Linked DNA regions of Homo sapiens. The protein of the gene in region 1 purifies or fractionates together with the protein of each later gene. This does not show direct contact. Each region holds a gene or a part of one and is shown on either strand. Other genes may lie near its edges.

Region 1 (4,609 bases):
GCGTTATCTTTTGCTGTTTGCTCTGTCTTATATTTTTAACAATTACACTATCAGGAAAATACTGGCTTTGTAGTTTCTGCTTTTGATATTCCATCACTTGTTCAGCAGCACGGTCTGCCCTAAATTGCCTATAATGCTTCTCTCGTTGAGTTGGAGTCCCAAAACCAATACCTTCAAAACTTAAATAATGTCGGTGTTGGGGTGTTTTATATTTGAATTTTTCTACATCTTCTTCTTCTTCACCTTTACTCTGACTGGCATTTGTTTGTTCTATCACATGGGAGAGCACCTTTCTATAAGCTTTTTCAATCCTTATAAATGTTGCAGAATCAGCAGTATTAGAGCCACTGTCAGGATGATATTGCTTGGCAAGCTTATGAAAAGATTCCCTGACTTCATCTGCAGAGCATCCTTCCTCCACGTTCAGCAGTCTATAATATTCTCTGATCTTCTTTTTGGATTTATGGGTTGACATCATTCTATTTCTAATGATACCAAAATATGGAAGCATTTTCACTCGATTAGGAATCACTGTAGCCTTTATCAGGTGAGATCTTAAGATCTGAGCCATCATCACATACATTGTATTCATTATTGTACCCAGAGTTCTTCCTAGCAATGACCTATAAAACGACAACAAATATAGGTTGAACAAAGTTGTATTATCAGTTAATTTCTTATTTTCAGCAATAAGGTAAAAGATACAGCATGAATTTATAAGTACAACAAGGGGCAGTTCTTTTGAATGCTGCTGTCAACTTTTTCCTTTTTTTTTTTTTTTTGAGACAGAGTCTCGCTCTGTCACCCAGGCTGGAGTGCAGTGGTGCCTCCACCTCCAGAGCCACGCCTAGCTAATTTTTTTGTATTTTTAGTAGAGAAGGGGTTTCACCATATCGCCCAGGCTGGTCTGGATATCCTGACATGGTTATCTGCCCGCCTCGGCCTCCCAAAGTGCTGGGATTACAGGTATGAGCCACTGCGCTCAGCCTTTTTTTTTTTTTTTTTTGTCTGAGACAGGGTCTTGCTCTGTTGCCCATGCTGGAGTGCAGTGGCACAATCGTGGCTCACTGCAGCATCAACCTCCTGGGCTGAAGTGATCCTCCCACCTCTGCCTCTCATGTTGCTAGGACTACAGGCGTGCACCACCACACCTGGCTAATTTCTGTATTTTTGTAGGGATGGGGTTTCGTCATGTTGCCCACCCTGGTCTCCAACTCCTGAGCTCAAACGATCTGCCAGTTTCTGCCTCCCAAAGTGCTGGGATTATAGGGGTGAGCCACTGTGCCCAGCCACATTCTTTTTTCTTTTCTTTTCTTTTCTTTTTTTTTTTTTTGAGACAGAGTCTCACCCAGGCTGGAGTGCAATGGCATGATCTCGGCTCACTGCAACCTCTGCCTCCCGGGTTCAAGCGATTCTCCTGCCTCAGCCTCCCAAGTAGCTGGGATTACAGGTGCACGACACCACTCCTGGCTAATTTTTGTATTTTTAGTAGAGACGGCGTTTCACCGTGTTAGCCAGGATGGTCTCGATCTCCTGACCCTGTGATCTGCCCGCCTCGACCTCCCAAAGTGCTGGGATTACAGGCGTGAGCCACCGCACCCAGCCCCACCAGCTGCATTCTTATAGCTATATTTCACTGATGTGGGCAGAAAAGTGGAAGCTGATGAAGTTTAGTGTTAACATATTGTGGGGCCAGGCACGGTGGCACACGCCTGTAATCCCAGTACTTTAGGAGGCCGAGGTGGGTGGATCACCTGAGGTCAGGAGTTCGAGATCAGCCTGGCTAACATGGCAAAACCCTGTCTCTACTAAAAATACAAAAATTAACTGGAGGTTGCAGTCCCAGCTACTCGGGAGGCTGAGGCAAGAGAATCGCTTGAACCCGGGAGGTGGAGGTTGCAGTGAACCGAGATCGTGCCACTGCACTCCAGCCTGGGCAACAGAGTGAGACTCTGTCTCAAAAAAATATAGATAGATAGAATCTGGATTCTACCCCTCACTAACTAACCGTATATTTTACAAGTGGAAAGTTCTTAGAGATCATCTAATCCAATCTTCTCATTTAATGAGAAAACGTAGGTCCGGAAGGTTAAGCAATTTAACCAAGTCCCATAACAAGGTGTAAGCAAAATGGTTAGGGGTGGGCACAGTAAAAAAGGAGGCTTGCTTAACTGTCTATACCTCCAGCCGATTATAAACTGCACGAGAGTCTGCATCATCTCAAGAAGTCTTCTCATAAGACGACTTATGGACAAGGTACGTACCTGGTCTGATACTGGATTGAATAGAATCAAGTGTCCAAAAGACTTTAAGCTCCACAGCTCGCTAGGAAGGAGCTATCTGCCAGAGGCCAGAAAAACCATGATGAATTGTGAGGCCTCCCAACACGTTTGCTGCTATTGCAATAACATGGTCTCGAAGAGGAGGAAGACTTGTACACTGACAATGGCCAAAAAATACTGGAAGTGGCTTAATTGGAATTGGGATATATAAACGCTAAAACGGAGCTCCTGAGACCCCCTATTTTCTAGGCAATCGGTGCCAACGGTCTGGGAGCCGGCTGCGAAGGTGGTTATCATGGCAAGGGAGGTCGGTCCTGCCCCGCCCCCTCCTCACCTGCGCAGACCTGGGGTAGGGGTTCCGCGGCTCCCGCCCCCCTGCCGCGCCTCTGCGCATGCGTGCGCGGTCCGCCCTTCACTGCGGGTGTCCCTCCCACCGCCTCCAGCTGGTGCCTCCGCCGGGCTAGACCATTTGCCACTTTACACTGAGGGGCTCGGGGGTACGGAAGGCAGAATCGTACCTGATTGGGACAGGTGACCTTACCAGGAAAACGGACAATCTTCCGCCAAACGAACTTTACCCCGGAGGACCCAGGCAGGGCACCTCGGGAGCCTTCGTCCCGACCGGGGACCACCAGCTCCACCTCCGTCCCCGCCCCGAGCGGAGGTGGTCCGGCCGATTGGGATTGTGGGAGATGTAGTTCGCTAGAAGGGGCGATGTGCGCCTGCGCCTCTCGGGAGGGACTTAGGGGGCGTCGAAAATGATGTAAAGACCGAGTTGGCGGCGTGGGGAGTTGTGGCTCGGAGGGCGAGGGTAACTTTCTGGGGGCAGGGGAAGGCAAGGCTGTTTCCCCGGAACGGGACCGGAACAGGTTTATTCGGGGTCACAGAAGGAGTCACCTGCGCAGATACATGAGGCTTAAAACCTGCCCTTTTATTAATTCAAGTACTGTTGAGGGGCTGGCGACAGGCCAGAGGACAAAATCAAAATAGGGATCTTCTGGCTTGGAGTTCAACCACTGACGTGGGGACTGAGCATTTCCCCTCTCTGTACAGGAAGCAAGTTTTTTAACAAGGAAAAAGAAAAAGGATAAAAAGAAAAAGGCAGAGGCTTGGGAGTTTTCAGATCTGGGTTGAAAATCCTGTTTCTTCTGCTTGCACCTTAGGCAAGATACCTGCAAAATGAGAGTTGCAATAAATAGTAAACTATAGTAAATAGTATGCCATTGTGCTAAGTGCTTTATGTATATTCTCATTTACTTTTTTTTTTTTTTTTTTGAGACAGAGTCTCGCTCTGTCGCCCAGGCTGGAGTGTGGTGGCGCGATCTCGGCTCGCTGCAACCTCCACCTCCCGGGTTTAAGCTATTCTCCTGCCTCAGCCTCCCGAGTAGCTGGAATTACAGGCGCGCACCACCATGCCCAGCTAATTTTTTTGTATTTTTAGTGGAGACCAGGTTTCACCATGTTGGCCAGGCTGGTCTCGAACCCCTGAGCTAAGGTGATCTGCCTGCCTCGGCCTTTCAAAGTGCTGGGATTACAGGCATTCATTTAATCTTTACAACAGCCCTCTGAGATAAATGCTGTTATTTTCCCTATTTTACATATAATGAAATAATAATTGTATCAACTTCATTGACTTTTTTAGGGGGAGAATTACACAATGTATGTAAACCACTTGGCACTGTGCCTCGCACATTAAGCAATATTTTTTGTTATGACTGTGTCTCCTAAAAGGAGCCAGAAATAGGTATTAGCCTCCTCAGCTTCTACATCATAAACATTAGAATCATTTATTGCCATCTATGTAGGAACACAGAAAAAGATACAGTATAAACTCTGATTCTGAGGGCTTTAGTTATAAGCAAACAATCAACAAAATAACTCATGTGAAAGAAAATAGGATTTCTGGCCGGGCGCGGTGCTCACGCCTGTAATCCCAGCACTTTGGGAGGCCGAGGCGGGCGGATCACGAGGTCAGGAGATCGAGACCATCCTGGCTAACACGGTGAAACCCCGTCTCTACTAAAAATACAAAAAATTAGCCAGGTGTGGTGGCGGGCGCCTGTAGTCCCACCTGCTCGGGAGTCTGAGGCAGGAGAATGGCGTGAACCCGGGAGGCGGAGCTTGCAGTGAGCCTAGATCGTGCCACTGCACTCCAGCCTGGGCGACAGAGCCAGACTCCGTCTAAAAAAAAAAAGACCTGGCCACTAAAAAATTTTTAAAAAGAAAAATAAGGCCAGACGCAGTGCTCACGCCTGTAATCTCAGCACTTTGGGAGGCTGAGGCAGGTGGATAACCTGAGGTCGGGAGTTTGAGACCAGCCTGACCAA
Region 2 (3,809 bases), on another chromosome or scaffold:
TTTTTTTTTCCCCCTGAAGCTCCTGAGCTTCAATCTCATACTTTTGTCTTTGCCCACTATGGACTACACCCAGAGGGCTCAAGACACACTGCTGGCTGACCGGCAGGACAGCAGCAGTATAGGGTAGAGGTTCAGATTAGGTAGGAGGACAGTAGGGCCAGAGCTTGCATGGGTTGGGGAAAGCACATCCCAGGGGCCCTCTCTGCTACTCACAAGAAGGCCTCCTTCCTGCGGGACTCCTTCAGTGGCTCGTCCTCTTCGGCATCATGGCTGGAAGGTGTATGGGGTTCCGCTCTGGGGAAGAGAGAGAGAAAGTTAGGGCCAGGCTCAGGGAGGTGAATGGGGCTGAGAAGGACCAGACTGGTAGCCTCACCTCCTGTAAGTGTCAGAAGCGGCAGCGTAGTGGAGGGGAGAGCAGCCTTTACAGTCGGCCTCGTTGACACCTGCCCCAGCAGTCACCAATGTTACTGCACACTGGTAGCTACCGTTAGCAGCTGCATAGTGCAGTGGGGTCCTGGGGAAGAAGTGAAGGAGGGTGGGGAAGAGAATCAGAGACAGATACGAATGCAATCAGATGTGCAGCCAAATGCTGCTTTGTAACATTCTCCTTATTTAAGTCTCCAATCTAAACCCTTCCTCCCTCTACCATTTGTTTCTCTAATCAGATATTCCCTATGTTTACCCCTGCATATTAGCATACCTGCCAAATTTGTCCCTCCTCCTCAAGTCAGCTCCACTGCTCAACAGCAAATTAAGACATTCAACATTCCTAAAAGAAAGATGTGTTAAGAGAGTTACAGCCTCAAAGGGAAGCCACAGGCCCAGGGTGGGGCTAAGGAAGGATGGGACTAGCAAGCCCTTTCTGCTGTGACTGCTTTCATTGTGAGAGGGGGAATAGATCTGGGCAGGCAAGAATGAGGGGCCCAGACCTTTGCCCAGCTCCCTGCTCAAAGCATGGGAGAGAGAAAGAGAACTCACCCTCCGGAAGCAGCAGCATGAAGACAGGTACGGCCAAGGTTGTCAGGTGTATTGATGTCAAACCCAGCTGAAAGCACATGCTCATTGCTGAGTGAAGACACAATGCTGTACAACTGACCTGGAGGCACAGAACAGCCACAGGTCACATCTGAGAGTGTTCAGCAGGGAGGGAAAGGCCTTTGCTCTCCTATACACCTGCCAATCCCCAGCCCATCAGCACATACCTGAGGAAAGAAGCTTACGACAACAGTCAGAGAATCCAAAGAGAACAGCTAAGTGCAGGGGGAACATGTCATGGATGCCACGCCTAGAGAGAAGTTGAGGGACTCAGTCCTTGGGTCAAGGAGGGACCAAGTAAGACCTCTTCTGTGACCTACCACCACCCTAGAGTCAGGGTAGGAGGTTCTCCAAGGTGCCCTTTGGCAAGCTTATCTGTGCCTCCATGGTTGATGTGAGCAGTCTGTGCAGATCTGGGCAGCCCAGAAGTGGAGTCGGGGCCCTGACTCACCGGGCGGTATCTGCGCCATTGGTCATGAGGGTGCTGATGAGCAGCTCGTGTCCATATCGAGCAGCCACATGCAGTGGCGTGTTCCCAAATTTGTCGGCACAATCAATCTCGCTGCCTGTGAGGGGATGCACACACACAAGCTCAGGCAGACCTCAGGCTTAAGACCACTTTCGCGAGCTAGCCATGATTTGAGTGCCTACTATGTATGCATCAGGTGCCAGGCCCAGGATTCTACATATTTTATCCTGTTTCTAGGCCTTAGGAGACTGGGCAGGGCAGAGCAGGGCCATTTCCACAGGTCCCTTGGTCAGAGTTCCAAGGGCCTATCCTACTGGAAGAGGGCAGGAGAAGGAAGTTAGGAACCTCCCTAGATTCTAGAAATGAGTTCCTTGGGGGAGGAGGGGATGAGAGCACAAAGTCTCCCAGGTCCATACCATTCTGGATGAGGATCTGGGAGCGTGTGAAACGGCCATGGATTGCAGCCATGTGCAGAGGACTTTTCCCTTCTTTGCTCTGTGGAAACATGGTGGGTTTTTGTTTTTGTTTTTTTTTCCAGTGCAAAGCACAGAGAATGCCCTACCTCCCTTCCAAGGACATATCTCTAAGGACAAAAGGGTCATATGGCACCTTCTTAGCCCACTCTTTCCTGAGTCCCTGGCAAGGTCTGATTACCCTAGGAAGCAAGTGGATAATTCCCCAAGAGAGCTATCCAGATACAGTCAGGACCCCTAGATCCAAGTTTCGCTCCCCACTGGTCTAAGCCTTATCCCTTCAGGCACCTGGTAGTTGACGTCAGCCCCATTATTAACCAGTAGCTCCAAGCAGAGAGCGCCATTGGTGGAGACTGCAGCCACATGCAGTGGCGTGAAGCCCTTGTCATTCGGCTGGTTGACATTGGCTCCGGCATTCACCAGCTCAATAGCCACAGCATCCTGGCCCAGGTAGCAGGCGATGTGCAAAGCTGTGTTTCCAAAAGCATTGGGTTCATCGATCTGGATATTCAGGGGTGAGAGTAAGGTGGTATCAGTTTAAACAAAGTAGAAGCCAGCACATGTAGCCTCCAGATCCCAGAAATCCAACGACTGCCTCATTTCCTCTCGGGTTTATGACCCAAGGTACTAAGGTACTAAGGGCACTATGGCTAAGGTAAGCATTATTCAGACCCTCTCTACCACGTCCTTCCAACTTCCCAAAACTATACCAACATCCCAATACCTCATATCTCCGTAACAGACTATAATCTCCTACTTGCTGCCCATAGTTCCCAACCCCAGAGCTCAAAGCCCTGACCTCCGCTCCCATCCGAAGCAGGTACTTCACCACTTCAATCTGGCCACTGGCAGCAGCTGTATGGAGCAGCCCATAGCCCTTGCGGTCCTTGCAGCCGAGGTCTGCTCCCCGTGCCACCAGCAGTTTTAGGACCTCCAAGTGCCCTGAGAAAAGAGAAGACACTCTAAAGGAAGTAGAAGGTAAACTCTAAGACCCTACACTCCTCTCTTCAAAGGCTGCAACCCCACATCCCTGCCCTAGGAATCCTAAATGTCAAATTTCTGATTTTCCCGTGTATTCTCTCTCACCTAGAAAAGCTGCCCAATGCAGAGGCTGCCGCTCCTTTTTGTCACAGACATTCAGGCTGGCTCCCTTGTTGAGGAGCAGGTTCACCGTCTGCATCAGGATATGAAAGACACCTGTTCAGAGCTAGATTCGTGCCCTCAACCTACCTAAGAGCAGAGGCCTCATCTCCTGAAAAGGCTGAGGCAGCCTAATGCCTTTTTCCATGAGCAAAACAACCTGGAGGACTCGAGGGAACAGCAGAAGCAGGCACTAAGGAGGAGATACTGGAGAGATTTGGAACTTTAAGGGAAACAAGAGAGTCTCTTCAGGTGATCTGGTGGTTCTTAAACTCTTTTTTTTTTTTTTTTTGAGACAGTCTCGCTCTGTTACCCAGGCTGGAGTTCAGTGGCATGATTTCGGCTCATTGCAAGCTCCGCCTCCCGGGTTCACGCCATTCTCCTGCCTCAGTCTCCCGAGTAGCTGGGACTACAGGCGGCCGCCACCACACCCGGCTAATTTTTTGTATTTTTAGTAGAGACAGGGTTTCACCATGTTAGCCAGGATGATCTCGATCTCCTGATCTCATGATCCACCCGCCTTCGCCTCCCAAAGTGCTGGGATTACAGGCGTGAGCCGCCGTGCCCGGCCGGTTCTTAAACTCTTGTAAGTCTTTGCAAATGTGCTGAAAGACATGGACTCTCTTCAGAAAGGCGTGTATGCAAATATTTTCCACGCAAAATCCAAGGTTTTATCAACCTCCTGAAGTCCA

What was found.
Region 2: the proteins of DNAJC28 (region 1) and ANKRD52 purify together in Homo sapiens (affinity purification with mass spectrometry, with the first as the bait; one large-scale study listed by BioGRID). This does not show direct contact.

Annotation. Positions count from the first base shown.
Region 1 is NC_000021.9:33,488,802-33,493,410, forward strand, and holds the start of DNAJC28 (dnaJ homolog subfamily C member 28), read right to left. Parts: upstream 2,916-4,609; 5' UTR 2,801-2,915; intron 2,601-2,800; exon of another isoform or gene 2,265-2,600; intron 624-2,264; 5' UTR 593-623; coding exon 1-592.
Region 2 is NC_000012.12:56,251,802-56,255,610, forward strand, and holds part of ANKRD52 (serine/threonine-protein phosphatase 6 regulatory ankyrin repeat subunit C), read right to left. Parts: intron 3,152-3,809; coding exon 3,064-3,151; intron 2,920-3,063; coding exon 2,777-2,919; intron 2,479-2,776; coding exon 2,266-2,478; intron 2,000-2,265; coding exon 1,921-1,999; intron 1,602-1,920; coding exon 1,487-1,601; intron 1,286-1,486; coding exon 1,203-1,285; intron 1,097-1,202; coding exon 979-1,096; intron 770-978; coding exon 701-769; intron 515-700; coding exon 374-514; intron 295-373; coding exon 214-294; intron 1-213. UniProt on the Homo sapiens protein: Putative regulatory subunit of protein phosphatase 6 (PP6) that may be involved in the recognition of phosphoprotein substrates.